Homo sapiens: one gene and its partners. The protein of the gene in region 2 purifies or fractionates together with the protein of the main gene of each other region. This does not show direct contact. Each region holds a gene or a part of one and is shown on either strand. Other genes may lie near its edges. The genes, in order: CREB3L2, WWTR1, JUP, AMOT, DDX17, NDFIP1 and USP1.

What was found.
Region 1: the proteins of WWTR1 (region 2) and CREB3L2 purify together in Homo sapiens (co-immunoprecipitation; one large-scale study listed by IntAct). This does not show direct contact.
Region 3: the proteins of WWTR1 (region 2) and JUP purify together in Homo sapiens (co-immunoprecipitation; one study listed by IntAct). This does not show direct contact.
Region 4: the proteins of WWTR1 (region 2) and AMOT purify together in Homo sapiens (affinity purification with mass spectrometry; 3 studies listed by BioGRID and IntAct, with this or other methods). This does not show direct contact.
Region 5: the proteins of WWTR1 (region 2) and DDX17 purify together in Homo sapiens (co-immunoprecipitation; one study listed by IntAct). This does not show direct contact.
Region 6: the proteins of WWTR1 (region 2) and NDFIP1 purify together in Homo sapiens (affinity purification with western blotting; one study listed by BioGRID). This does not show direct contact.
Region 7: the proteins of WWTR1 (region 2) and USP1 purify together in Homo sapiens (affinity purification with western blotting; one study listed by BioGRID). This does not show direct contact.

Annotation. Positions count from the first base shown.
Region 1 is NC_000007.14:137,991,751-137,995,962, reverse strand, and holds part of CREB3L2 (cyclic AMP-responsive element-binding protein 3-like protein 2), read left to right. Parts: intron 1-4,212. UniProt on the Homo sapiens protein: Transcription factor involved in unfolded protein response (UPR).
Region 2 is NC_000003.12:149,521,452-149,525,663, forward strand, and holds part of WWTR1 (WW domain-containing transcription regulator protein 1), read right to left. Parts: intron 1-4,212. UniProt on the Homo sapiens protein: Transcriptional coactivator which acts as a downstream regulatory target in the Hippo signaling pathway that plays a pivotal role in organ size control and tumor suppression by restricting proliferation and promoting apoptosis.
Region 3 is NC_000017.11:41,779,807-41,784,018, forward strand, and holds part of JUP (junction plakoglobin), read right to left. Parts: exon of another isoform or gene 4,175-4,212; intron 1-4,174. UniProt on the Homo sapiens protein: Common junctional plaque protein. The membrane-associated plaques are architectural elements in an important strategic position to influence the arrangement and function of both the cytoskeleton and the cells within the tissue.
Region 4 is NC_000023.11:112,820,091-112,824,302, forward strand, and holds part of AMOT (angiomotin), read right to left. Parts: intron 3,099-4,212; 5' UTR 3,037-3,098; coding exon 2,165-3,036; intron 1-2,164.
Region 5 is NC_000022.11:38,499,313-38,503,524, forward strand, and holds part of DDX17 (probable ATP-dependent RNA helicase DDX17 isoform 1 precursor), read right to left. Parts: intron 1,969-4,212; coding exon 1,818-1,968; intron 188-1,817; coding exon 88-187; intron 1-87. UniProt on the Homo sapiens protein: As an RNA helicase, unwinds RNA and alters RNA structures through ATP binding and hydrolysis.
Region 6 is NC_000005.10:142,114,858-142,119,069, reverse strand, and holds part of NDFIP1 (NEDD4 family-interacting protein 1), read right to left. Parts: intron 1-4,212. UniProt on the Homo sapiens protein: Activates HECT domain-containing E3 ubiquitin-protein ligases, including NEDD4 and ITCH, and consequently modulates the stability of their targets. As a result, controls many cellular processes.
Region 7 is NC_000001.11:62,443,243-62,447,454, reverse strand, and holds part of USP1 (ubiquitin carboxyl-terminal hydrolase 1), read right to left. Parts: coding exon 4,136-4,212; intron 2,718-4,135; coding exon 2,026-2,717; intron 115-2,025; coding exon 1-114. UniProt on the Homo sapiens protein: Negative regulator of DNA damage repair which specifically deubiquitinates monoubiquitinated FANCD2. Also involved in PCNA-mediated translesion synthesis (TLS) by deubiquitinating monoubiquitinated PCNA.

The DNA of each region.
Region 1 (4,212 bases), on a different chromosome or scaffold from region 2:
CGGATTATTTTACTGTCTCTGAAATTGTTCTCATGATAGTAACATTGGTTGGGAGGTGGTAGACATAGGCACAGTCCTGAAAGATGAGAGGGCAGTACAGAGTTTTATATTTGCCCTCCTTCTCGAATGATCCCTGAGTTACAGTGTTCATGGGAAACAGGGGTCTCTGATGTGACATTGCTTTTGCAGGAGTTATAAGATATAGCATCTAGATTAATAATTGAATTAATTACAGTGCTTGCAGCTAGAAGTAACTGAAAATGGATTCAGATCGGCTCATACAGTAAGTAAATTATCTCATGTTGCAAGAGGTTGTGAAATAGAGCCCCTGGCCGGGCGCGGTGGCTGACGCCTGTAATCCCAGCACTTTGGGGGGCCAAGGCAGGTGGATCACAAGGTCAGGAGTTCAAGAGCAGCCTGGCCGAGATGGTGAAACCCTGTCTCTACTAAAAATACAAAAATTAGCTGGGCGTGGTGGCGGGCGCCTGTAATCCCAGCTACTCGGGAGGCTGAGGCAGGAGAATCCCTTGAACCTGGGGGGTGGAGGTTGCAGTGAGCCAAGATCATGCCACTGCACTCCAGCCTTGGTGACAGAGTGAGATTCTGTCTCAAAAAAAAAAAAAAAAAAAGAAAGAAAAGAAAAAAAAAGAAATAGAGCTCCTTGTTGGCTGATTCAGCAGTTCCTCAATGGACCTTGGTTCTGCCCATGTGCAGCTTTCATCCTCAGGTTGGATGTGTGATGGACATAGGAGTTACAGGGGTTACATTCAAAATGACAACATCCAGAGGAAGAAGAGAAGTTGTCTCTTTCTTGTGTCCCTTTTTTAGAATGGAAGAAACTTTTCTTACTAGCCCACTAGCTGATTTTTCTTAAAGCTTTATTGGTAAGGATTCGGTCATATGACCATTCTTAAGCCAATGGCTGGAAAGGAGAATGGGATTTATATTATCAGCTTAGATTAATCATATGGGGATGGAGACTCAACCAGCATGACCATTGGGATCATTAGTAAAATAGTCTGAGTTAACAATTCTTTCCTTAGTCAAAAGGTATGTTTCTTTTCTCATGAACATGGGCTAGCAACTAGAAAATTTAAAATTCACAGTAATTTGCCCTGGGCGCAAAACAGTAAACCCAAGTACTGTGCCACTCGCAGAGTTCTTTTGTTTTTTGTTTTTAAATAGAGACAGGGTCTCCTTATGTTGCCTAGGCTGGTCTTGAACCCCTGGGCTCAAGGGATCCTCTGCCTCGGCCTCCCACAGTGCTAGGATTACAGGCATGAGCTATCACGTCCGGCCCAGCAAAGTTCTAAGAATATTATTTAGCTGTGCTACCAATGCCCAGTGAAAGAAGACTATAGATGTAGAAATAGCCTCTTGAAAGTGCAGGGAAAGGCTAGGGAGGGGTGGGAGCCAGGAGGAGATTATGGCTATGTCTTGACTCACTAACTAGGAGATGTAGAATTAACTGTATTATCTGGACTCTTGGCGTCAGAGTAGAATACCAGGGCTGGAGGTAGCTAGCTGAGCCTGTAATCATGCTTACCATGCAGGACAAGAATGATTTGTTCTGTTTGGGATCGACAGCAGGTGGCAAGCTAAATGCCATTTTTCAAAGAAGCAATTTTTCCAGTTGCATATGGCTGTTCAAATATTGATGAGGGCACATGTGCCTGTCTGCAGCTAAAACTGCCGGCCTCAGCCTGACATGGCTCTACGCTGTCTGGTGACTCTCTTGGGGTAAATAGCCTTAAGCCTTAGCTGGGCATTTGGTAGGATTGAGGCCTATGGTTGCAGGGCATCTGAATTGTCCAAATGAGTGATCTTATGAGTGAGGGAGTGCTGCCCTTGTTTTCTGCCCCTGTGGAATCAGGATGGAAAGGAAATAATGAGACCCACTGTCTCTGGATCAACCTTGAGCCTATTTCTCTTTTTCCCTGCTCAGTGGATGCACCCTGGCCTTTCTAAATGAAGTGCTAAGGGATCTTGATTTTTCCTTGAATCAAATTGTATAGGTTATTCATGAGGCACATGGGAGAAGATGGGCCATTTTATCTATGGGGAATGTAAGACATAGAGCAGTAGAGATTTGCTCAGCACAAGTTCCTTGAGGACAGGAGACATGACTGTCTCTTCTATACCCTCATGGTCCTTAGTCAAGTGCAGGATGCCCAGAGAATCGTAAGTGCTTGATGCATAGTTAAGTAGAGTGAGGCAGTCCTGGAAAATGGATAAGCTGGGTGGCTTTGGCCTGTTTTTATATATTTTTAAAACTCTGGGCAAGACGTGGTAGCCCATGCTTGTAATCCCAGCGCTTTCAGAGGCTGAGGCAGGAGGATCGCTTGAGCCCAGGAGGTTGAGTTTACAGTGAGCTGTGATCACGCCTCTATACTCCGGACTGGGCAACAGAGTGAGACCCTGTCTCAAAATAAATAAATAAATGAGCAAACAAACAAATAAACTCTGGATTCTTGTAAACGGTTTTGCAAATGTGAAAATTCAGTATAATAGTGACTTGGGTAATTCAGTGTTGATATCTTTTCTTGTTTTGATTAGAGAACAAGGTGGGCGTGGGGTGATTGAAACAGTCCCTGTTTCCAGTGGGAGTGGAGTTGATGGCATGGTGGAAAGGGTGGGCTTTCAAGGCAGGCCATTTTGATGTTGAGGGACACAGGCTCTCTGGTGACCTTGGGTACATTACTTCACCTATTTGGATTTCAGTTTCTTTGCATGTCACTGCCTGATCCATAATAGAAGTACTTTTCCAACCTATCCCCTAAGTCAAATGTCTTCTCTTTGAGAACAAGGTGTCCCAACCTTAGGAGTCTGACATCATTCAGAAAGTGGAGAGAGCCTGTCATTATTCTCTCTCATGCATCTTTATTTCCTCTCCTCTCCAGCTCCTACATTGTGCTGTAAACACAGGCCTCTGCCTTGAACACATGTTTGCCAGATGCTCCCTCTTACTCATTTCTTTTCTCTTGTTTACTGCCAGGTTTTCTCAAGTGCGTGGTCACCAGCCATGGCCTCCATTTCCTTAGTCTCTACCCTGTATCCTCTGCCCGCTGGGTCCTACTGCTCAACCTCTCCCTGGCTGCTAAATCCAATAGTCTTTTCTCTGTCCTTACCTGCAGGGCCTCATGGGACTATTTGGCAATACTGACCACAGGATTGTCTCATAACTCGTTTTTGCTTTGGCTTCCATGACACTCTGGCAAGCTTAGTTCTTCCTCCTTTTCTGGCTTCCATACCAGCTGTTAAATGTGAGTGTTTTGGTACTTGGCCTTCTCTTCTCTCTGTATGTTCCCCTGGGCTCTGCTATAAACTTCAGTGCATCTGGTTCTCAGTTTTTTATACTTGTTATTTGTCTTTTGACGAAAAGCAGATCTTTGGAGTTTGACTCAAGCCTGCTAGGTCCACCTGAGCAGCAGAACAGCTCTGGCTGGGTAACCCTTGAATTTTCATGTGTTTCTTGATGTGTTTCAAAGAAGAGCTGGGATGTTGATCCTTCTTATCGCTGCACCCATTTATCTCAGGGCATGTTGAGTGACTCAGCTCTCTTGCAGTGTAAACCCAAGAGGAGCTCATGGGTCATTCCTGGGATTCAGCTGCTTCTACAGTCCGTGTCACTCATTAGAGGCAAGCTGTGTTTTGCCTAGACTTTTGCTTGTACTTTGGCTTGGGAAACCCTCTGTGGCATCCTGTGGGGGTAGGTCTAATCTTTTCGACTGTGTGGAAGGTCAATTCAAAAGTGAGACGTAACTTCTTAGATCACGTACCATATTTTCCTCTTGTGTGTACAGCTGCTCTGGGGCTCAGCTACAGTTACCTCATGTTGAATTGCCTGCTTTTGAGTTGCTGTATTCTGGTGTAGGTGTAATCTGTTTATTTGAACTTTACTGATATTACGAAGAGCTTTGGGGATTTTTTTTTAAAGAATTGAGATGGGTTATTCTGAACCATCCATATTTTAATGCCCGATTCTTGTTAGAATTATTAACAGTAGTTCTTGGAAGAGAGTTTTTCTTTGGAGGATAAAGCTTTTTTTTTTTTTTGAGGCAGAGTCTTGCTCTGTTGCCCAGGCTGGAGTGCAATGGCGTGATCTTGGCTCACTGCAACCTCCATGTCCCAGGATCAAGTGATTCTTGTGCCTCAGTCTCCCGAGTAGCTGGGATTACAGGTGCCCACCACCATGCCTGGCTAATTTTTTGT
Region 2 (4,212 bases):
TCATTTATAAAGGCAGTTCTGCAGACGTTTTCCCTCTTTCTGTAATACCTACACCCTACAACTATCTGCCTTTCTCACAAGCATATGAGCACAGTGCATATGAGCATGTTAAGGCTTTAAGTCTTAGAGTAAAGAAATCTTTTGTTTTCTTTAAGACACTATTTCCTAAACCCATTTAATCACCTAAACCTATTTTGGCAGTATGTGTATTCAAATAAAACTGAAGTTCTACAGAACACAGGTGAGAAAATGCTGTACTAGAGGAAAAGTAGGTGTCTGGGATATGACATGAAGAATATAGGTTCTTTATGTGTCATAGTATGGGACAGAATGCACTACTGACTTTGGTGTCATTAGATCGAGCTTTGTGGCTGTGTAAGCTTAGACACACTTAACCTGCCTGATTCTCAGTTTACCCATCTAGAAATTGGGATCATATGCTCCTTTTACAAAAGTTAGAGTAAAGTGCCATATAGTGTCTGCCACATATCCATGGCTCTGGGTGTCATTGATATATACAAAGTTATATACATACAAAAATATAATAAATGTTCATTGTCCTGAGAGAAAGAAAAACCCAGGTCTTCAGCCACTATTAATTACACAATATCAAAACAACAGGTTAATTCAAAAAGTCCCAAACAATTTTCTGAAGAGATAATATCTACTTCAAAAATTGAGAAGCATTGATAACTAAGGCCAGCTTCCACCATAACGTCATTTTTTAAAAACTTGTTAAATTATCTTTTGTGTGTTACAAGTGCAGTAGCCTTCCTGAAACGTGTGTAGGGAAGTTTCACTATTTTAAGCAAAATTGCCGAAAGTTCACTTTAGCAATCTGTGTTTTCCAGGGAGAAAAATTATATCCTTCCAAATGATGAAGGAACCATCATCCAATTTGGATTTTGGTGATAGCAAAACACAATGGCTTTTCTAGAAGTCACAAAATATAAATGACTCCTGGGTAACATTTTACAGTATTTTCATTGCAAAGGGTAGTAAACTGAAAAATTAAATCAAATTCAACAATATGACCTCAATATAGTGTTACTGATATTGAAAAATAACGTTAAACGAAAAAACAAAATCCAAAATAACTTTCTTCTACTTACTAGAGTGTAACAGATAAAAATGAGGCTTTAAAAAGTGTCTAAAAAACAATCTGATCTAATGTGCTGGATGCCTTTTTTTCTCTTCATCTCCAGTTAGAATCATTCATTTTTACTAATTTCCCATTTTAACTTTCAGATACTCAAGAATATAATTTTTAGCCAAGCAAAATCTCTGTTTTAAAGAATTCCTAGGCCGGGTGTGGTGGCTCATGCCTGTAATCCCAGCACTTTGGGAGGCCGAGGTGGGTGGATCACCTGAGGTCAGGAGTTCAAGAACAGCCTTGCCAACATGGTGAAACCCTGTCTCTACTAAAAATACAACAAACAAACAAACAAAAAAACCCCAAAAAAACAGTGCCAGGCATGGTGGCGCACCCCTGTAATCCCAGCTACTCAGGAGGCTGAGGCCCGAGACTCGTTTGAATCCAGGAGGTAGAGGTTGCAATGAGCTGAGATCACACCACTGCACTCCAGCCTGGGTGACAGAATGAGACCCCGTATTAAAAAAAAAAAAAAAAATTACTCTTATCCTTTCTTCTCAGGATGGAAGGCATGAGGATACTGGCTAAGCTTCTTCATTAAAGTTAACAATCTTAAAATAGAAGCAGCTCTGCAATCTCATAGTAATCTTTTTGGTCTTTGCAGTTTATCCACTTAAAAAGTGGAAGAGACAAACACAAGGCAATTCTTTTTTTTTTTTTTGAGATGGAGTTTCGCTCTTGCTGCCCAAGCTAGAGTGCAATGGCACAATCTCGGCTCACTGCAACCTCCGCCTCCTGGGTTCAAGTGATTCTCCTGCCTCAGCTTCCCGAGTGGCTGGGATCACAGGCATGTGCCACCACGCCCAGCTAATTTTGTATTCTTAGTAGACACAAGATTTCTCCATGTTGGTCAGGCTGGTCTTGAACTCCCAACCTCAGGTGATCCACCCACCTCGGCCTACCAAAGTGCTGGGATTACAGGTGTGAACCACCGTGCCCAGCCACAAGGCAATTCTTAAAAGGGTGTGATTACTGCAGAATATTCTGGAAGGATGGATGATTTCCCAGCCTTTGCTCATGTTATTCCCTTTACTGGATCTTCGCACCAAGCCCAGCTGTTGCTGCCATGTATGTTTTGCAAATGGAGTGCTCAGCTGGCTCGTTTCCCTTCAGCATGTGGCCAGCGCGTGGTCCACAGGCCTGATAGATCTTTTCTAGCCACACTTGAGCTCTGCCTGCCCCCACAGCTTCCCTCATTTTGCTACTGTATAATTAACATTTCTCCCCTTGAGAAGATGTATGTCCAGTTCCTACAAAGACTTCACAGAGGTGGCCCCACACTCAATGAGCTGACTCTAACTTAACCAGGTTAACTTGGCACTCACATTCCCACACTCAATGAGCTGATTCTCACTTAACCAGGTTAACGTGGCACTCTGACATTATCAAGTCCATTGTATGTATGACATCAGTCTTCTTACTGGAGAAGAGCACTTTGAGCTGGTCTCTGTGATCTCATGACTCCTCACAACTCTGCCGTGAGCATATCACTCCCACTTTATGGGTGAGAAATCTGAGGCTCACGGAGGTTATGCAACTTACCCAAAGGCGCTACTAGGAATGGAGAAGCAAGGATTCAAATCAGGCTGCCTGTTGGCTAAAACTATGTTCTTTTCAGGACGTCATTTAATTCCACATTACGGCTTCAAAATAAAACACTCCCTACTTACCCACTTGAGGTTATTTTAAAGAGACATAGAGTAGAATCCATCCTCTTTTATGGTTTTTTTTTTTTTTTTTTGAATGTCAAACTTAGATTTAGATCTCCTGAGCTTTTTTCCTTAACTTTGCTTTTTATCCTTACTGGCTTCCCAGTGTTTAGAAGATGAAAGTAAAGAATTATTAAACATAGGAAGGAGCCACTTCCTAAGGCTATTCCAAAGATAGCAAAATAAATCTCACACTCAAAAAGCAGAGAGAGAGATAAAGGTGGCAGGGGGTGGTGGTGGGGGAAGAACTGAAGTAATAAACTGAAGAACAGTAAAACAATCAGTGCAAACTATTCCTGTGTCACTCCTCACAAGATAGTCTTTGCAATCTTCTCAATGCAAAGATGACAACCTACACGAAAGACGCCAGGGGAGCAGCTTTAATGTACTGCATTTGTAAGACACCTGGCTATGAGTTTGACTCTTGATCTTTCCAACAATTTAGACTCACAACACAAAGAGAAGCCATCAAAGAGTAGAGTGTAAAAAACTACAGGCACTATGGCAAACACTTTGGGGGAAGGAATTTTTTATTTTCAACACAAAACAATTACTTTCGTCAATGATAATGGAGAAGGAACTTTCATGAATAACTCCAAATAGTGGACACCCTGGCTGTCATTTATTTTTGGTTCTAGAATATCTTCTTAGAGTTTATGACTTTCATAATTAAGTCTAGGTAAGGCTAATAAGACTAACTTCAGTTTCTGCAATTGGAAGTCTCACTCCTTGAGAAAAGGAGAAAAAGAAAGGTAATCGGGAAGCCTGGTGAGGCTGGACCTGAAGGATGCACAGGCTGGGGACAAGGTAAGAGTAACCCTGACTCTCTTCTCTTTAATTCCTGAGGGAGGATGTCGTTACCATGTTGGAACTTGGAAGTGACAATTTTGAATCCTCTGAGTTGCTCAGCATTCCAAATACCCACTGCCAATTGCTTTTCAAATGCAGTGAATGACATGAAAAAAATTGGATACTAGAACTATAAACCAGTGTCACTTTCCAGGAGAAAGGGTGGCCCATATATTACAACTAAAAACTAGAACAGCATAAATACCCCAATGTGGAAACATGGCAAACAAACAGTGGTGTCTTGATGCAATTGTGAGGAAGGGACTATATGGAGCAAAGATGAATTAAAAAAAAAAAACAACAGAATTTAAAATCCTGCGCCCAGATGTAAAACTATACTTGTATAATCTATGAGGAAGGGGCTACAGTTTATTAATAGTGCCTGGGGGTTCAGTGGCTTTTCAGCTGTTATTTTATGTTGTCGTTGAGATTGAGTGTTTCTGGTTGGATTTTAAAATTGAGATGACCGTACTCGCTCTGGCAGCACCTATACTAAAACTG
Region 3 (4,212 bases), on a different chromosome or scaffold from region 2:
GTGCACATGCCACCATGCTTGGCTAATTTTTTTTTTTTTTTTTAAGAGATGGGGTCTTGCTATGTTGCACAGGCTGGCAGGCTGGTCTCAAAGTCCCGGCCTCAAGCAATCCTCCTGCCTCAACCTTCAGAGCGGTTGGGATTACAGGTGTAAGCCACTGCCCCAGCCAGATATTACCTTCTCAATCAAGGAAGAGGAGGAGTCTCCCCTAAATAAGCAGCTTATTGATTGCCAAGCCCCTGTCCCAACTCTGCTCTGGTCCCTGCTACTGTCTCCATGGTAGGGAAAGACACAGAAAGCTGAGCTTCAGCTGGGCATGGTGGCTCATGCCCATAATCCCAGCACTTTGGGAGGCTGAGATGGGACAAATGCTTGAGCTCAGGAGTCCAAGACCAGCCTGGGCAACATAGCAAGACCCTGTCTCTACACAAAACTTTAAAAATTAGCTGGGCATGGTGGTGCACACCTGTGGACCCAGCTACTTGGGAGGCTGGGCGGGAGGATTGCTTGAACCCAGGAATTCAAGGATGCAGTGAGCTGTGATCACGCCACTGCACTCTAGCCTAAGGGACAGAGCGAGTCCCTACCTCAAAAAAAGGAAAGAAGGCCGGGCGCAGTGGCTCACGCCTGTAATCCCAGCACTTTGGGAGGCTGAGGTGGGTGGATCACTTGAGGTCAGGAATTCAAGACCAGCCTGGCCAACATAGTGACACCCCCATCTCTACTAAAAATACAAAAATTAGCTGGGCATGGTGGCGCATGCCTGTAGTCCCAGCTACTTAGGAGGATGAGGCAGGAGAATTGCTTGAACCTAGGAGGCAGAGGTTGCAGTGAGCCAAGACTGCACTACTGCACTCCAGCCTGGGCGACAGAGCAGGACTCCATCTCAAAAAACAAACCAAAAAAAAAAAAGAAAGAAAAGAGAAGAGGAGAAGGGAGGAGGAAAGAAAGCTGAGTGCCAAAAGCGGTGGCTCACGCTTATAATCCCAGCATGTCGGGAGGCCAAGGTGAGTGGATCACCTGAGGTCAGGAGTTCAAGACCAGCCTGACCAATATGGTGAAACCCCGTCTCTACTAAAAATACAAAAATTAGGCCGGGCACAGTGGCTCACGCCTGTAATCCCAGCACTTTGGGAGGCCGAGGCGGGTGGATCATGAGGTCAGGAGATCGAGACCATCCTGGCAAACACAGTGAAACCCCGTCTCTACTAAAAACACAAAAAAATTAGCCAGGCGTGGTGGCGGGCGCCTGTAGTCCCAGCTACTCGGGAGGCTAAGGCAGGAGAATGGTGTGAACCCAGGGGGCGGAGCTTGCAGCGAGCGGAGATCGTGCCACTGCACTCCAGCCTGGGCGACAGAGTGAGTGAGACTCCGTCTCAAAAAAAAAAAAAAAAAAAAATTAGCTGGGCGTACTGGCAGGCGCTTGTAGTCCCAGCTACGCGGGAGGCTGAGACAGGAGAATCACCTGAACCCGGGAGATGGAGGTTGCAGTGAGCCAAGATTGTGCCACTACACTCCAGTCTGGGTGACAGAGTGAGAGACTCCATCTCAAAAAAAAAAAAAGAAAGAAAGAAAGAGAAAAAGAAAGCTGAGCTTCCTGCTCTGCTGGCCCCAAAGGCCAAGATGCCAGGAGGCTGAGCAAAGGAGAGTGGTCCATGAGCTTGCCCTTCAGGCCTGGCAGAGGAAGTCGCTTCACAATAAGATATTCCATGTCCCCAGACTCAACCATGTCCCAGGAGAGGCCGCTCAGTGTCACTTGCAGGAACACAAGCCCTGGTGACCTGCCCAGCCACACTGCTTGCTTTTCCTCTTCACAGGGGTCACAGGACCAGCTCACAGATGCCTTTCCCTCTCACTGCCAGGTCGCTCTTCTCCCAAAAGATACAAATGAGGAGTCTCCCCAAAGGGCAGCAATTCCTGTCTGGCCTCCCTGCCGCACAGGATGGCCCTCATCAGAGAAGAGTCAATGCTGAGTCTCCACCTCTCCCTCTTATTTCTCAACTCAAGATTTCATCTTTAGCAGGCAGAAAGCCCCTCCTCCTGTCTAGACTGCGTCCCTTCAGTAAGTGCATCGGGCCTGCAGCTCTCAAGTCCTCGGGGGAGATGGAAAAACTGCAACCTCATGCCCTCTTTGTAGTAGTCAGTGGGATGGGGTTCATTCTGTTTTCTTCTCTGTCTCAAGTCCCATTAGCCTTCTCCACGATCAATAATCCCGTTGCCTGGGGTCCCCGCCTGCCCTCAGGGAATCCAGAAGCGCGGTAGTGACAGGTTCAGTACTCCGGCTGCACCATCACATAAAGAGAACCCATTTCCCAGACCCCAAATCCAGGCCCATTCTGGTGTCAGATGTCCAGTTGGCAGAGACACCAGAACCAGGCAGGTCTGGAGAACAATCTGACACCAGCTCCTCCCTAGAGGGCCAAGGCTCTGGCTGACAGGCAGCACACATGACCCCCACCTCCATCACCAGAAAAGCCCTCCCAGCAGCTGCCTATCTCAGGTCTCTTGGGCTTCAGAGCAGAGGACAGCCAGTTCCCCATCAAGAGCAGCCTGGCAGCACTGCCTCGTCAACTCCAGCAGGACATTAGCCCAGGCCTAAATCGGACTCTCGTTTCTCGCCAATCCCCACAGGGCAGCACCCCTTTATCTTGGCATAGCCCCAGCCCCCAGCAAAGCAGGCAACTCCCACTTCCTACACATGAACAAGCCCAGAACAGCCATGGTTCTACCTAACCCAAGCTAGGAGGCAGCACAGCTTTGACCCCTGCCTCCTCTTTCCCTCTCAACCTCCCCCCAACACTCACCACAGCCCTGGCCTTGGGGAGAAGCCGCTTCCACCGGAAACTAAAAATCAAGCCACTGGGGAGATTTAAGTGGGCTGGTGGCCAGGACAGGTATCACCCCCACCTACAAAACCTGCCCTACATTCACCACTCACACATGCCTTCATGGGCCCTTCTGAATTCTCTTCTCCCCAGTCAGGCAGAGGCTCTCAAAAGGGGGTGCAGAAAAATCCTTTCCGCTCACACCTGTAATCCCAGCACTTTGGGAGGCTGAGGCGGGCGGATCTCCTGAAGGTCAGGAGTTCGAGACCATCCTGACCAACATGGTGAAACCCCATCTCTACTAAAAATACAAAAATTAGCCTAGTGTGGTGGTGCATGCCTGTAATCCCAGCTACTCGGGAGGCTGAGACAGGAGAATCGCTTGAACCCAGGAGGTAGACGTTACAGTGAGCCGAGATCGCGCCACTGCACTCCAGCCTGGGTGGCAGAGCGTGACTCCATCTCAAAAAAAAAAAAAAAATCCTTTCCAGAGCTGCATGGGGCAATACAGCAGGATGGGTTCTGGGCTTGGAATCAGAGGACCCAAACGTCAGTCTTGGTGCTGCTTGGGTCTCGCTGTACAACATTGGGGAAATTACTTAAGTTCCTTGAGTTTCAATTTCCTCCTCTGTAGAATGCGAATAATGATACGCGTTTTTTTTGTTTTTTTTTTTTTTTTGAGTCAGGGACTCACTCTGTTGCCCAGGCTGGAATACAGTGACACAGCTCACTGCAGCCTTGACTTCCCTGGGCTCAGGTAATCCTCCCACCTCAACATTCCCAGTAGCTGGGACCACAGGCATGCACCACCACGCCCGGCTAATTTTTCTATTTTTTTGTAGAGACAGGGTTTCTCCATGTTGCCCAGGCTGGTCTGGAACTCCTGGGCTCAATCAAGCAGTCCACCCTTCTGGGCCTCCTAACGTGCTGGGATTGCAGGTCTGAGCCATCCAGCCTGGCCAGCCATAAGGATTAAGTAAAAATAGTTAATGAAAGTGCTTGGTTTGGGCCAGGTGAGGTGGCTCACGCCTGTAATCCCAGCACTTTGGGAGGCCGGGGCGGGCGAATCACGAGGTCAGGAGATCAAGACCAGCCTGCGCAACATGGTGAAACCCTGTCTCTACTAAAAATACAAAAATCAGCCGGGGGTGGTGGCACACGCCTGTAATCCTGGCTACTCAGGAGGCTGAGGCAGGAGAATCACTTGAACCCAGGAGGCGGAGGTTGCAGTGAGCCTGGGTGACAGAGCGAGACTCCATCTCAAAAAAAAAAAAAAAAAAAAAAAAGAAAGTGCTTGGTTTCTGTAAAGTCTTACCTTGATCTTGAGTTACCGTTTGTCAAGTACTTACTGGGTAGATAGGTATTAGTATTCCCATTTTGCCAAAGA
Region 4 (4,212 bases), on a different chromosome or scaffold from region 2:
AATTTTACGGCCAGTATTTGCCTGATGCAGACCCAAATTTCATATGGAGCATCCTCCCACTAGGGCCATTTTAGGTTTGCTTATTCATCAAGCATTATCAAGCACTCTGCTCCTTTCCCATAGAGAAAAACCTGTTACAGCAAAACTGTGTATTAAAATGCTGCTCAACAAGGGTAGATCATCATGGGCTCTGTTGCTTTTGAGGACAGAAAGAAAGAGAAATCCACAGATAACTTAGGTGGGAGGATAAAAAATATGTATCTTCCTGTAAAATACATGCAGCTAAATTTCTCCGGTGGTTTAATCAGGATGGGAAGAAAAGGAAAAAAAAAGAAAACCTCTTTGGGCTCCTCATTATTTATTTAGGCAGATCAAAGGGCAGATAATTTTCCATCTAGCTTCAAACACTGTGGGAGTCATTTCAGATCACAAACAATACTGGTGAATGAGTTCTGAAAATAGCTTTCCTGGGAAGGCGGGCTGTGTGCTGAGTGGGGCTGTGGCTTCTGCTCCACACCCCAGCCAACACACTCCCCTCCCACAAGGCAACAGACATCAGCCCATCAACAGACTCTTCCATACTGATGGGAAAAGCAAAATAAAAACCCCCAGCTTCATTGATATTTTGCTGGCTTGAATGGGTTTCCACTAAGTGAGGCAGTCTTGAACAGACCAACCCCTCCCTGGGTCTTCTGTTTCATTGGTCAGATGGGAATCTGGTTCTTGATCTCTTTTAAACCTGAGTAGCCTTGTTGGTTACCCCATTTCCTGTTCCAAGACACTGATCAGAACATAGGCTCCTGCCCTTTGAAAGCTGCACAGAGGAGGTTGAAAAGGGTTAGGAAATCAACCTGGGTTAAGAGGGAAAAAAAAAAAAAAATCCTAAACTGGCAAAGTTAGAGGTGGAGTCCAAAGTGAATTGCCTCTGGCTACAAAAACAGGACCTGCAGGGGAAAAAAAAGAAATACCAGGAAATGCTAGGTGCCTTCTCTCACTTTCACCCTACTCCACCCCATGACTGCCTTCTCTCCTGAGTCACTCAATGAACTTCAAGCCAGAAGGTTTTTTCCAAAATGAGCAAGTAGGGTACAGGAGACAAAGAGGTAGACATCAAAGGACATCACAGACCTAGTCTGTGAGCCGCATATAAATGAAGGCCAGCCTAGGACCAAGCACTTCAAACCTGATGGTCACCCATCATTACTCATGGCCATGAGGCAGGATACCACACTTAAATGCCACCATCGGTCCCCATGGTTTAAACCTTTTCTCCTGCCCTATATGTGGAAATACTACTGATCAGAGACATGGCCCAAATACTAACAACAGGAACAATGAACAGAATCATAGAATCATAAGGTCTAGTGAATATAGCAGTGGGACAATGGACCTCTGAATAATTAAGAAGTATATATAGGAACAACTAAATATATAAGACAGAAATGGTAATATTTTTCCTTCTGTATTTTAGCATCTGACCAAAATTTCTATATGATGTGATGGGAATTTAACTCAGAGGTTTAAAAATGTGACAGGCAACTAATAAATTCTCTACAAAAAAAAGATACAACAGTCCAGATTTCATAAACTGCAAGCATAAGGCAAGTAACATTCTGAACCTACATACATACATAGCTCCCCCACCATAACATCTGGGTGTTTGTTTAGTCCAAAAGAATAATGGTAATTCTATGGAAAAATGGTAACTGACAAGAAATACACAGATTTGTTTGCAAAAATAAATGATGAAAGCTTCATGGAGGGGAATATGTGCAAGTGATAGGATGTTCCAGACTAATTAAAGTGCAAGGTAATTTGCTTCTACCTCTCAAGGAGGGCTTATGAGAAACACAGACCCCTTCAACATCCTAGGAGAGAGGACAGCAAATAGCTGCTGAAAACAAGACTTTTGCTCCTGTTCGTCCACTAGGCAGTTGAGGCCATGCTCAACCTACAAAGCTAAGGGATTGTTAATACAGTGCTAATTATGGCTAAAGAGGATACAAATTCGGGTTGGCAGGCAATTCACGAAGCCAGAGGCCTGTCATGCATTGCAGAGTTTGTTATATCAAACACCTGCCCGTTCCTTCCCTAAGATTCCCAACACACAGCAGAAGCTGGTTGGGGATGAGGTCAGGAAATGACAGAAACAGAACTCTCTTACCTGGCTGCTCCATACTCAGGGGGATGCTGATACCTCATCAGTTGCCCCTCTGTTCTCCCTGGCTGGTTCAGGCGATGCTCACTATAGAAGTGCCCTGGCTCTTGGGGCTTGCACACTACAGATTGGGGTGGCATGCCCTTGAAGGGATATTCTGGTGGGGGGCCTCGGTGTTCCATGCCCTTCAGGCTATGCTGGTTAGGAAGTGGCCCTTGGGCCTTGTAGAATTCACTGGAACTTGTGGGATTCTTGTAGAGGTCATTGGGTTGTGGTGGGGAGAGGGGAGCACTGGTAACAGGTGGATGGGCCTTAACTCCACTGGTGGCCAGTGACATCTGCATTAGTCGTTCACTCAAGGAACGGACATGCCCTTGCTTAAGGTCTCTGAGTCCCTCATCTTGGTGCATCTTTCCAGGATTGAGCCGCTGAACTGATGGGCGTCCCTCAGTCCTCATCTTCTGGTTGGTGACTCCAGTGACATAGAAGGCAGCTCCAACACTGGCATGCTGTTGGCCCCGAAAGTACTGGGACTGGACCTTGGCTTCTTCATAGGTCGGGAGTTCTTCATTATTTTGCATTCGAGGAGACAGCTGCTTCTCCATGATGAGGTTTTCTGACTGGATTTCCTGCCCCTGGGGTTCTTGTCGAGCAGCATGAGCCACAAGCTGTTGGTGGTGGTCTTGGGGACTCAACACATCACTCTGAGGGCCCGGGTTCCCACTGCCACTGGGGAAAGGAGGGCCATTCCCTGTGGCTTGCTGGTGTATGGCAAGCAGGCTGCGATTCTCACTAGGATTGCCATAGCGAAGCTGCTCTTGTAGCAAACGCTGCAATACCGTGGTCCCTCCACTTGGCTGTTCTTCAGAATTTCTCATCTCTATTGCTGGTGGTGCCTTGTGAAGAGAGAGAGAAATTGGGCACCTGGGCTGCCCTTGACCTGGGAAGGGGAAACAGGAAGCTTAACACCCAGTTGATGGATAAATCAGTCCTCTAAAGGGAAAGAAAATGGATATTGGAGGGTGAGGATTCGATTGCAGAAACAAAGTAGAGAATTGACTCTAAAATTAATAGATTGTTGGGGATTCCAGGCCCTAGCACTGATATGATGAAGAACATGGAGGCATAAGAGCTCTAGGTTTTCTCTTTCACTTTTAGCATGAGTTAAATATTCAATCTGGACTTAACTCCTAAGAATGCTTGAGAAACCTGGAACAGTCAACTAGGGTAATCAAAGGGGGTAACTTTTCAAGGTCCATATTCACAGGCTTCATCTCTCTGTATTCTATTTAAAGCAAAAACCCAAATCTTATGGCTGTGGAGGTGGGGGCAGGACAGTGGGGAAAGTTACCCCATAACAGGATTTGTAAAGCAGCTCAGCATATGAAGGCAGCTACAAAATGCAAAATAAAGACTCAAATAAATAAAAGGTGAAGAGAGCTTGGCTTGCACCAGACAGTAATGATCCCTGCCTCGATGCAAATCTTTTTCTCTGATCTCATAAGGCTCTGAAACATCTTTTTAAAAAATCATTTTCATAGTCTCCATTTTGGATGCTCCTTGGCTTAATAAGAGAAGGACTTGGAATACTTATTACTGACAAAGTTGCCTTTCAGCTCTCCAGAAACAGTCATTTAGATTTGCTGTTATTGTTATTGGGTAGAAGCTTAAAGGGGAAGCCTCTTTTATTTGAAGTGTGCCTCTGACAAAATTTAGAAATTGAAAAATATAAAGATCATCCTTCTGGAAAGGGTATACGATTAGCATATCCCCTCCCTCACCATCAATTCTTCTGAACAGGTACTATGGGTTGACTGAAACTGATTTTAGTAACACAATTTAATATTCAAATTCTAATCATACTATTGGTTTACAGGGTATACAACTGATTCCTCTTTTCTTGATGTCTATTTTCTCAACAAAAAATGGCTGGTAGGTGATTTCTCTCTCTCAGCACTGTATAGTACACACTAATTCATTAGAGATTCAAAAATTCTTTGGGCAGAATCTGTCAATGTTAAGTATTGGAATTAAGTAATAATGTTCAATAATGA
Region 5 (4,212 bases), on a different chromosome or scaffold from region 2:
GCCTGGCTCAAAGAGTTTAACCTACTACCCTTGTCTCCCATTCAACCCAATTTAACAAATTAAGGTTCTAGATTGAAGAACACTTACGTGGGAAGTTAGCATGATGGAAGGCAAACACGGGTTTAGGACAAACATCTCCCCCCCTCACTGTAATCTCCTTCTTTCGGCGTAGCTCATCAACCTCATACTATTGAAAAAAAATGAAAGAAGTTAGTAAACTAGTTATTCTAAACATTCAGAATTTATGTTCCAAGCTAGCTGAGCAATTATCCAGTCCACAGCTATGTTGGCAAATATTTAATAGTTTACATGGTACTTTCATGTGTATCACTTTAACTCTGCAAGGCTCCTACTTACTTTGTAAGTTAATTAATGATGTAGGTGATTAAGAGTTCCATTTTCTATAGGAGAAAAAAGATAAGTAACTTGCTCAAGGTCAGAATGAGAAGGAAAAAAAAGTGGAACTTGGACCCAAGTACTCTTTCCATTACACTTTCTTCTGAAAGAGTAACCATTTCATGTGTAGAGTCCAAAAAACAATGGTAATGAGGTACAAGAAGAGACAATGTTGGCTGGGCACGGTGGCTCCCACCTGTAATCCCAGCACTTTGGGAGGCTGAGGTGGGTGGATCACTTGAGGTCAGGAGTTTGAGACCAGCCTGGCCAACATGGTGAAACTCCGTCTCTACTGAAAAAAAAAAAATAAATAATAAATGAACCAGGCGTGGTGGCACATGTCTGTAATCCCAGCTACTCGGGAGGCTGAGGTGGGAGAATTGCTTGAACCTGGGAGGCAGAGGTTGCAGTGAGCCAAGATCATGCCACAGCACTCTAGCCTAGGGGACAGAGTGAGACTTCACCTCAAAAAAAAAAAAAGCCAATCTATCTTTTTCACTAACAGATGAAAAAACATGACCTAATATACAATATTTCAATCATGTATAATAAACAGATTAGTAAGCATTATCAACAAGAGAACAAATTAAATGCATATTTAAACTGGTCCCCTTTTATGAGTATTAGGGGTCTTAGATAAGAATGTAAGAAAGGCTGGGCATGGTGGCTCACACCCATAATCCCAGCACTTTGGGAGGCTGAGGCGGGCAGATCACAAGGTCAGGAGACGGAGACCAGTCTGATCAACATGGTGAAACCCTGACTCTTGCACTCCAGCCTGGGTGACAGAGCAAGATTCCGTCTCAAAAATAAAAAGAGGCTGGGCGTGGTGGCTCACGCCTGTAATCCCAGCACTTTGAGAGGCTGAGGCAGGTCGATCACCTGAGGTCCGAGGTCCGGAGTTTGAGACCAGCCTGCCCAACATAGTGAAACTCCATCTCTGCTAAAAATACAAAAAATTAGCCGGGCATGGTGGCGGGTGCCTGTGATCCCAGCTACCTGGGAGGCTGAGGCAGTAGAATCGCTTGAACCCAGGAGGCGGAGGTTGCAGTGAGCCAAGATCACACCATTGCACTCTAGCCTGGGCAACAAGAGCAAAACTCCGTCTCAAAAAAAAAAAAAAAAAAAAAAAAAAAAATCAGCTGGGTGCAGTGGCTCACGCCTGTAATCCTAGCACTTTGAAAAGCTGAGGCAGGTAGTTTGCTTGAGCTAGGGAGTTCAAGACCAGCCTGGGGAATATGGCGAAACCCGGTCTCTACAAAAAGGAAAAAAAAAAAAAAATTAACCAAAAAATTTTTTAAGAAAAATATCACCACACTAGAATAAAATGTAAAACGGCAACAGTAGCGTATGAATAAACTCTAACCAATATATCTACTTGGTTCAATAATCTGTACATTAAAACACACATGTAAACTTACTGGTGTCAGCCTTGCTACTTCCGGATGTTCCACATAAAAATTTTTCTCAAACTTGGGGAGCTCACTCAAATCCCACTTTTTTTTACGCAAACGCTCCCCAGGATTACCAAATTTCTTCGGGGGAAGGCCACCACCACCTCTTGCTCCAAATCTAGGAACAGAATTTTTAGTTAGTTCATCAGTATTTTTAAAGCAACGTATCGTACATGCCATAAGAATATTCAAAAAGGATGGAGTTCTAGGGATACTACCAGCCTACCTCCAAAAAGACCATTTTATTTGCTGTGATTTAAAGGTATGGAGAAATGTGTAAAACCTCCCTTACTACCCAACAATAAATACTGTTTATGAATATAGCTACAATAGGCAAAAAATTAAAAATCCCTTTATTGAGAGAAATACATCCTAGGGATTACAATCACAGATTCTGGATCCAGACATGGTTTGAGTTTTTATTCTGCCACTTACTGTATAATTTGAAGAGAATTATTTAACTTCCACACACCTTAGTTTCCTATGCAAAGTAGAAATAATACCACTTATTTCAGAGGCTGCTGAGAAAATGACCTAATAATGTGTAATGTACTATAAAAGTATCTGGCATAGCCAGCACTCAGTACAAGTTAGCATCATTTCATTCAACAAATAGTTATTAGGTACCAAGTTACTAGGTACCAAGTATGTATCGGCTACTGTTTGAAGTGGTGCTGTGCTGGAGTTACTAAACAAAACAGACACAAGTCTCTATTTTTGTGTAACAGACATGCAGGCAAAGGATGACATTAAGTTAAGTTTCAATTAAAGGGAAGATTGTGGACAAGAAGGAAGATACACTCCAAGCAAGTCCCTCAATCTTAGAATAGCTTCTTGGGCCTGCTCCCCTATTAAACTGTGATAAGCACTCCACCTGTCTGCTTATCTGCAAAGCAAAACTGGGTCTTGGAAAGGACTGGTAGACTGGTCTTCATTTTTAGCTTACGCTAATAAAAGAGCTGAGCCTGCCGGGGGCAGTGGCTCAGTCCTGTAATCCCAGCACTTTGGGAGGCGGAGGCCAGTGGATCACTTGAGGTCAGGAGTTTGAGACCAGCCTGGCCAATATAGTGAAACCCTGTCTCTTACTAAAAACACAAAAGAGTAGCCAGGCGTGGTGGTGCACGCCTGTAATCCCTAGCTACTTGGGAGGCTGAGGCAGGAGAACCGCTGGAACTCGGAAGGCGGAGGTTGCAGTGAGCTGAAATGGCACCATAGCACTCCAGCCTGGTAGACAGAGGGAGGGTCCGTCAAAAAAAAAAAAAAAAAGCTGAACATAGATTTATGACCTTTCCTTCTTCTTTGATCTCTACTTTTACCTTCTATCTCCTTCTTGTTCCCAAATGGTATTATTAATTTACAGAGAAAAAAACACTAACAAGACTTATTTAAGGCTTTAACACTCAACTAATTACTTAAGATCAACTTCTTGCTTTTTATATACCTTTCACAACAGACAAGCTCAAGAGGAATACAAATATGACCACTAGCCAAAGCTAATATTTAAGAAATCAGAAGCTACTTTTCCTAGAAGAATCTTAACACTAAGATGGCCTTAATTTTCCCTATTTCGATCTTGTAAAGTACAGGTCTTTGTTTGGCATACAAACTGTATAGCATTTTCTCAGTTTCTTTACTCCTTGTAAAATATTGTACTGAATTTAGTTCCCTTTTCCCACTCTAACCCACTTGTAACTTCATCTTATATAAAGTTCCACTTTATCATTGATAGGCAAGTAGGTGTATTATTCTACAGGGCCTCAATTTCCTGCAATTCAAAGCCATTAGAACTCTGGCTTAACCAGCCAGACATTCCTCTAAATACATACGTAACAAAAATTGATGGCAGGAGATTTTATTGGGATCACTGGATACCTACACTCAACAGGCAGAACTTGGCTAATTCCATTTATACCACTACTGAGACAGTGAAGACAAATTAAGAATCAGAACAGGAAGAGCACATAGCATAGGGATACCCGTGTCAGCGACATATTTAATATGCCCCTCAGCTTAAGACTCAATACTGAACAGACCAAAAGGCCACCTCAATTGCCGCTCCCGCCACACTTGCAAATGAAGCAGCTAAATAAGGTACTTTTCAAGAGGTAGAAAGTCTTTGGATTATCACTCTTGCAAATTATAAAAGACTTCATTGTTATTGCCACATTGCAATGCTACCCAAACCTTAGTGACTTAGGAAAAAATAAAACTTGAAAGTAAGATTCCTGTTAAGGCTTTAAACTGATGATTATCATTCATGTATTTTTTTTTCCTCTCTCCTTACTTCCCTGGCTATTTATTCAAGACATTCTATTCTACACTAAACATTTAATTTGAAACATGTGGTTCTTGGAAAATATGC
Region 6 (4,212 bases), on a different chromosome or scaffold from region 2:
AGACATATATAGTTCCTTGCTCTGTCAGCTTAGAAGGCCTAAAAGCAATGACACCCTAGTAGCAAGGAGCACAGATCTTGGTTTGTAGTATTATTTTTCAATAAAAGGAACCTAGGCTCCTTGGAAAAATGCCTGATTCTAGGATAGTGCAGGAAATATATAAGATGAGCCTAGTGCCAAAAAGTATGGAAGTGGTTAAAAAAAAATCCACAATGATGGAGGTATGCAATTTAAGCAATAAAATAAAGCAGTTATTGGATAATTGGAAGAATAAAATAAATATTTATGAGTCTATACAGATATAAATACTAAACAAATTATCAGAGCAGAGACAAATGCCCCATGCAGGAAATTCCAAATAATTCATGTCAATACTTGGCCCTCAGCGAGGTGTTACATAACTCCCCACTCCTTATGTGTGGACCATGCATAGTGACTTCCTTCCCAAGAGTAAGTATGGAAAGTGGGGTAAAACGTATCTTTACAGAAGAGAAACCTGAGAAACACTACCTCAGCCAGGTGATCAAGGTCAATGTCAACAATGATAAGTCATGTTGAAAGTGTGCATTCTTGATATGATGTGATGAGAACAGCACTTTACCTGTGGTCTTCCCCCAAATCCACAGCCCCAGTCTAATCATGAGAAAAACATCAAACAAACCCCAATTGAGGGACATTCTACAAAGACCTGACCAATACTCCTCAAAACTGTCAAGCTCATCAAAAACAAGGAAAGTTTGAGAAACTCACAGCCAAGAAGAGCCTAAGGAGACAGGACGACTAAATGTAACATTACCACATTATATCATCCTGGATCCTGGATGGGATCCTGGAACAGAAAAAGGACATTAGGTAAAAACTTAGAAAATCTGAACAAAGTACAGACTTTAATTGATAACAATGTACTAATATTGGTTCAATAATTGTGAAAACCGTACCATACTGATATAAGATGCTAATAGGGAAAGCTGGGCATAGGGCATATGGAAACTCTCTACTGTCTTCTCAGTGTTTCTGAAAAATTAAAAATGTTTCAGCTGGGTGTGCTGGCGTGTGCCTGTGGTCCCAGCTACTTGGGAGGTCAGTGGGGGAATGATCGCTTGAGCCAAGGAGTTTGACGCCAGCCTGGGTAGCAACATAGCAGGAACCCATCTTAGGGGGAAAAAAGTTCCAAAAAGTAAAGTCTATTTGAAAGTACAGATTTATTTAAAAAACATTTAAAGCCAAGGAAAGGTTAAGAAGAAAGCCTGAAGATGGAGGGTTGCAGTGAGCCGAGACTATGTGGCTGCACTCCAGCCTGGGTGCAGAGTGAGGCCCTGTCTCAAAAAAAAAAAAAAAAAAGCCTGTAGAACACACACCAAACTTGAGGAGCAGTTACAGCTCTGCAAAGAGATAGGGAGGAAAGGGAAATCAAGTTTTTCTTTAGAAAGTTACTGTTTGAATCTAGCACATGAAGAATGTATTACTATTTAATACAAAATGCTTAATTTTAAATATCACATTTAAGCATCGAATGATAAAATGAAATCGGCCAGGCGCAGTGGCTCACACCTGTAATCCCAGCACTTTGGGAGATGGAGGCGGGTGGATCACGAGGTCAAGAGATCGAGACCATCTTGGCCAACATGGTGAAACCCCCTCTGCTAAAAATAGAAAAAATTAGCTGGGCGTGATAGCGGGCGCCTGTAGTCCCAGCTACTCAGGAGACTGAGGCAGGAGAATCACTTGAGCCCAGGAGGCGGAGGTTGCAGTGAGCTGAGATTTCGCCACTGCACTCCAGCCTGGCGACAGAGTGAGACTCCGTCTCAAAAAAAAAAAAAAAGCAAAAAAAGAAAATGAAATCATTATTAAACAGGCACCACTCCCTAAACCCTTATATCTCTATTCATAAATTGTCCAGTCTCCAGATAGACCTCCAAATTGTATTCAAGCCTTTGATTATGGTAAGTACTAATTAATATTGCTGAGATAAACTAATTTAAAAGACAAAAACAGAAAAATGGTCAAAGATTATGCTAAATTGCTCGGGGAGGGGGATAAGAAATATATTATACATATGGGCCGGGCACGGTGGCTCATGCCTGTAATCCCAGCACTTTGGGAGGCAGAGATGGGCAGATCACTTAAGGCCAGGAGTTCGAGACCAGCCTGGGCAACGTGGTGAAACCCCATCTCTACTAAAAATACAAAAATTAGCCAGGCGTGGTGGCATGCACCTGTAACACCAGCTACTTGGGAAGCTGAGGCACGAGAATCTCTTGAACCCAGGAGGCGGAGATTGCAGTGAGCAGAGCTCTCACCACTGCACTACAGCCTAGGTGACAGAACCAGACCCTGTCTCAAAAATAAATAAATAAATAAATAAAAAAGAAGAGGAGAGAAGAGAAAAGAAAAATACATATGAAGGTAGCCTGGGCATGGTGGCTCACACCTGTAATCTCTGTAAGCCAAGGTGGGTAGATCATTTGAAGTCAGGAGTTCGAGACTAGCCTGGCCAACATGGTGAAACCCCACCTCTACTAAAAATACAAAAATTAGCCGGGCCTGCTGGCGGGCACCTGTAGTCCCAGCTACTCCAGAGGCTGAGGCAGGAGAATGGCTTCAAACTGGAAGGCAGGGGTTGCAGTGTGCCAAGATTGCGCCACTGCACTCCAGCCTGGGGAACAGAGCAAGACTCTGTTGAAAGAAAGAAAGAAAGAGAGAGAGAGAGAGAGAGAAAGAAGGAAGGAAGGAAGGAAGGAAGGAAATAAATAAATAAATATACATATGAAGGGAACTGCATTAATAAGAAAATATTTCACTAGGAATGCTCTTAAACTTGATCAGTGCTAGTATTTAGGACATTTAATATAAATTATGTTATTCAGAAAAATCATGAGTAAGCCTTATTGTAACAGCAGGATGTGCTAAGTGATATCAAGTTACACTTGCTTTACTACCACTCTTGGTCAAGTTAACAAGACATATCATACAGTCATCCCTCAGTATCCACTGGGAATTGGTTCCAGGACTCCCCACAGATACCAAAATGGGAGGATGCACAAGCCTCTGACATAAAATGGTATAGTATTTACACATAACCTACCTCATGTACTTTAAATCATCTTTACTTATAACACTTAATACAATGTAAATGCTATGTAAAATAGCTGTTATAGTGTATATTTTACTTGCACTATTATTTATTATTGTATGGTTATTTTCCCCTATTTTCAATCTGCAGTTGGTTGAATCTGCGAATGTAGAACCTGTGGATACCCAGAGCCTACTCTAACTCATACCCCCACCTAGCCAACCACTAGAAGCAATTACCACTGGAAAGTATGTCAAGCCCAAAAAATTTCATACATGATGTTTGCCAGTTGCCTAGCTTATTGGCAACAATGACTTGAAAAAAAGATAAACCATCATGCCAATTTTCAGTATGAATGGAACAGAAGTATTAAAGTTGCTTTATCTAAATTGTCCATTATTATAAGAATATAGGCCGGGCGCAGTGGCTCACACCTGTAATCCCAGCACTTTGGGAGACCGAGGCGGGCAGATCACTTGAGGTCAGGAGTTCAAGACCAGCCTGGCCAACATGGTGAAACCCCATCTCTACGAAAAATACAAAAAATTAGCTGGGCGTGGTGGTGGGCACCTGTAATCCCAGCTACTCAGGAGGCTGAGGCAGGAGAATCGCTTGAACCTGGGAGGCGGAGGTTGCAGTGAGCCGAGATCGCGCCATTGCCTTCCAGCCTGAGCAAGAAGAAAGACACTCCATCTCAAAACAAACAAACAAAAAAGAATATAATTCTTCTAAGCTGTTGTACTTGCTTAAAGGTAAAACAAGAACATTTTAAGAAACCAAAATAATTATTTTAAAGCCCTAAAAACAAATAAATCTGAGGATGTCACTTGAATCTCTTGGAGACTTTTTTTCTTTCTTAATAAAAATATGAAGTTATTCTCATGGTAGGATTTACTTTATAATCTACCATAAAATTATGAAATATAATTAATGTCTAGGATAAAACAATTTGAAGTTATGTGCAGTTAAACTACTGGTGGCATCAGCTTAGAGCAAAATTCCCTAGAGCAGTTCAACTGGGCCTTGGTTTCTGCCCAAACCAGGAAGCACTGCCCTATTTTCAGGACACAGATAGTATGATTAAGCCAAATAAATCTTGCCTAACAAGTGGTCACCCATGGGATCAGGTAAGAAAACAA
Region 7 (4,212 bases), on a different chromosome or scaffold from region 2:
CTTGAAAATCTTCTCTTCTTTCTGTTAAACTTTCACATTCCAAGCAACGCGTCCTTAATACCAGCTGACCTTGAAATAATTTCTCCACTAGCTCAAAACCAATTTGTTCTTCACCTAAAATGAAAATAGGAAAATGTAAGTCTATACAGATTAGTTTCTCATTATAGTCCAAATAACCAATTTTCCATTTAAATAAAGTATATCATGAATAACAGTTCCATTTTCATAGATCAGCTTATTAGCATTATTAGCTTATTAGAGGTACCCTATTAATGAAATTTAAGGTCCCTGTAAAGATAAAACTGACTATGAAATTACTGTCTTTAAAAGAAGTCAGTTGTAGGCCGGGCACAGTGGCTTAAGCCTGTAATCCCAAGACTTTGGGAGGCTGAGGCGGGCAGATCACCTGAGGTCGGAGTTCAAGACCAGCCTGACCAACATGGAGAAACCCTGTCTCCAGTAAAAATACAAAATTAGCCGGGTGTGGTGGTGCATGCCTGTAATCACAGCTACTCGGGAGGCTGAGGCAGGAGGATCGCTTGAACCCGGGAGGTGGAGGTTGCAGTGAGCCAAGATCATGCCATTGCACTCTAGCCTGGGCAACAAGAGCAAAACTCTGTCTCCAAAAAAATAAAAAAAATAAAAAATAAAAAAAAGTCAGTTGTATTGTAACTCCCTTCCTACAGACACCTCCCCATAGAATAAACCCAGAATAAGGATGACATTTTTGGTAAAACTATTCACTATATCAATATTACACATTTTCCCTGATATCTGTAGATCTGGACAAAACTAGGTAAAAATCTAGTTCAAGTATCGTGTAACTTACAGTTATGCACCACCTACCAACGTTTCAATTATTTAACAATGGACCGCATATGACAGTAGTCTATGATTATTTTTACTGTACCTATGTTTACATATCTATGCTTAGATACGTCTTAGATACACAAATACCATTGTGCTACAGTTGCCTACAGTATTCAGTAGTTATATGCTATACAGGTTTGTTGCCTAGGAGCAATAGGCCATGCAAAGCTTGCCTGTAGCCCGTAACAAATTCATAAACTTTCTTAAAACATTATGAGACTTTTTTGATTTTTTTTTTTTTGGCTCATCAGCTATCATTAGTGTATTCTGTGTGGTGTGGCCCAAGACACTTCTTCCAGTGTGGCCCAAGGAAGCCAAAAGATTAGATACCCTGGTCTATACCATATAGGCTAGTTGTGTAGTACGCTCTAGCATCTAGTTGTGTAAGTACACCGTGAAATTCACACAATGAAACAGCACATTTCTCAGAACATATCCCTGTTGTTAAGCAACACATGACTGTACTTAGTCTTTACTTTTAAAATTTCACTAAATGCAATGTCCTTCATCAGTTTATGTCAAACACTGCATAAAGGGAAATGTACTCTTAAATGTACATTAAAATATACTGAACTTCCCTACTTTATTATTATTTGTTTTTTTTTGAGACGGAGTCTTGCTCTGTCGCCCCAGGCTGGAGTGCAGTGGCATAATATTGGCTCACTGCAACCTCCACCTCCCGGGTTCAGGCGATTCTCCTGCCTCAGCCTCTCAAGTAGCTGGGACTACAGGCGTGCGCCACCATGCCTGGCTAATTTTTGCATTTTTAGTAGAGACGGGGTTTCACCATGTTGACCAGGCTGCTCTTGAACTCCTGACCGCAGGTGATCTGCCCGCCTAGGCCTCCCAAAGTACTGGGATTGCAGGTGCGAGCTAACATACCTGGCCGAACTTCCCTACTTTATAAGCTATAAATTAAAATTACTTTAATGACATTACACACACACACACACACATATATATGCATACAATATATACACACACACTAATCTAAGCATAGCACTTAAAACACCATAGTTCACATTCAGTGTTAAATTTCCTTCTCTTGAAACAATTTTAGCCAGAGATTATATTGTACATGTATCTAGGAAGAGAAAATTCTAATTCTGTAGCTGCTAATGCTTCTACCTATCAAAGTCTAAGAATTATACTAACCTTTGTTTATGGGTTTAACTTCATTAACATTTACAGGTGTAACAGTATTTCCTGGAGATTCAAGTCCACAACCATTAGTTGTGTTATCACTTTCACACTTCCCCAAGTCCTCTTCAGGATCACATTCATTTTCTTTAGATTGTCCTTTGACTCCTTGGTTTGTTGTTATTTTTCCCAGACTACAAAATTTAGAAAGAATGCTGGGTTGCTTAGTTGCAGACTTTAACCAATTTATTTTAACTCTTGATTTCTTTTGTGAGGGTCTTGGACTCTCATTTTCAGAAATATACTTGGGAATTATTTTAGGAGGACTCTCTAATGTATCACTTGTAGCTTTTCTTTTTGATCTAGTTTGTCTCTGGTTCTCTTCCAATGACTGGTGTTCCTTGGATAATTTAACTTTTTTCTTCATGTTACCAAATTCAGTGTCACTTTTTCTTTTCCCATTTCCTTTTGGGAGTTTCTCTTTAAAGTCTTCAGAATGCCTCATACTGTCCATCTCTATGCTGTTAATACCATTCATTTCCTCTTTCGGATGAGGTATTTCTTCTACCTTAGTAGGTAATTCTGCCACATTTTTTACTTCTTCTTTTTTTAGGAGTTGGCATGTTTCTTGAATGTTTCCCAAAATACATTGTAATACTTCCTGTGCATCATGCTGTAGATATCCTTCATACATAGGGTTGAGTTCCCTATAAATAAAAATTTCCATTTCATCTATTCTAGTTTTGAAGATACAGTACATAAAGCCTATATAGAAATTAATTCATGTAAGGAAAATCATAAATTATTTCATTTTTTAAATGTCAAGACATTTATTCAGCACTAATTTGGAATTTCTTATCTGTAACTAAAAGTAAGAGTAAATTGTACCCTATTTTCATTATAATACTTTGATCCTCTTCTAAATATATTAATAACTAATACTTAGATAATGCTTACCATACACCAGGTTTTAGTCAAAATGTTTTTTATCTCCTATGTATACATTATCTTCACAATAACCCTATGAGGTACTATTATCACCATTACTGACAGATACAAGCACTAAGGCACAGACAGGTTAAATAACTTGCCCAAGGTCACAGAACTACTTAGGATGAAAAGCCAGTATTCAAACCCGCTCTTGGCCACCACGCTACAATGGCCTTTTTTTTTTTTTTTTTTTTGGAGACAAGGGTCTTGATCTGTTGCCCAGACTGGACTGCAATGGCGCAATCTTGGCTCACTGCAACCGCCGCCTCCCGGGTTCAAGCGATTCTCCTGCCTCAGTCTCCCGAGTAGGTGGGACTACAGGTGCAAACCACCACACCCAGCTAATTTTTGTATTTTTAGTAGGGGCAGGGTTTCACCATGTTGGCCACACTGGTCTTGAACTCCTGACCTCAAATGACCCACCTACCTTCACCTCCCAAAGTGCTGGGATTACAAGTGTGAGCTGTGACCGGCCTACAATACCTCTTAACTAAGGTATAGCAATATATTGCACCTAGTTCTATTTTTAAACTAAATGCTTAAGTGATTGTTTTAAAGACTTGCCCTATAATTGTATTTGAATAAGGCTATTTTATATGTAAAGTTTCATTTTTAAGAAAATACCAAAAAGCAATCTAATCCAGTTAGCCAACAGTTCTCCTCTAATCACATATAAAAATAGAATATTTGGAATTTACAGTTCTTACACATATTTTGAATATAGTCCTATAATTCTTAATGTGAAATCCTTAGGACCACGCATTTAGAAATTCAGACATTTTCAGATTCAATGATTATATGGCATATAAGTAAAATATTTATCACCGACTTGATATGGGAGTACTCTATAACTAAACACATTACTACTTCTATAGAAGCATGTATGAATATTCACGTTAGAGATAAATATGAATGACTATAAAAAGCCTCATATAATATGTTCAGATCTAACGAATTTAGCACCAAATTTATGAAAAAAATTTCCAGTATTCAGAGTCTCTGGGATATAAAGGACTGTGGACCTAGAGTTTCTACTTTCCTTGCCCTTTATTCCTGTTTCTTCGCATGTCATTCTCCTCCAAGGATATAAACAAGTAGCTAAATTGAAACCCTAAAATTATATTATAGGCTATACCTCAGTGTGTTAAGCAGTCGCCTTGGCTGAGTGGCAAGTTCATCAGTATATTTCTCTGGATTTAAGAGAAAACTAGC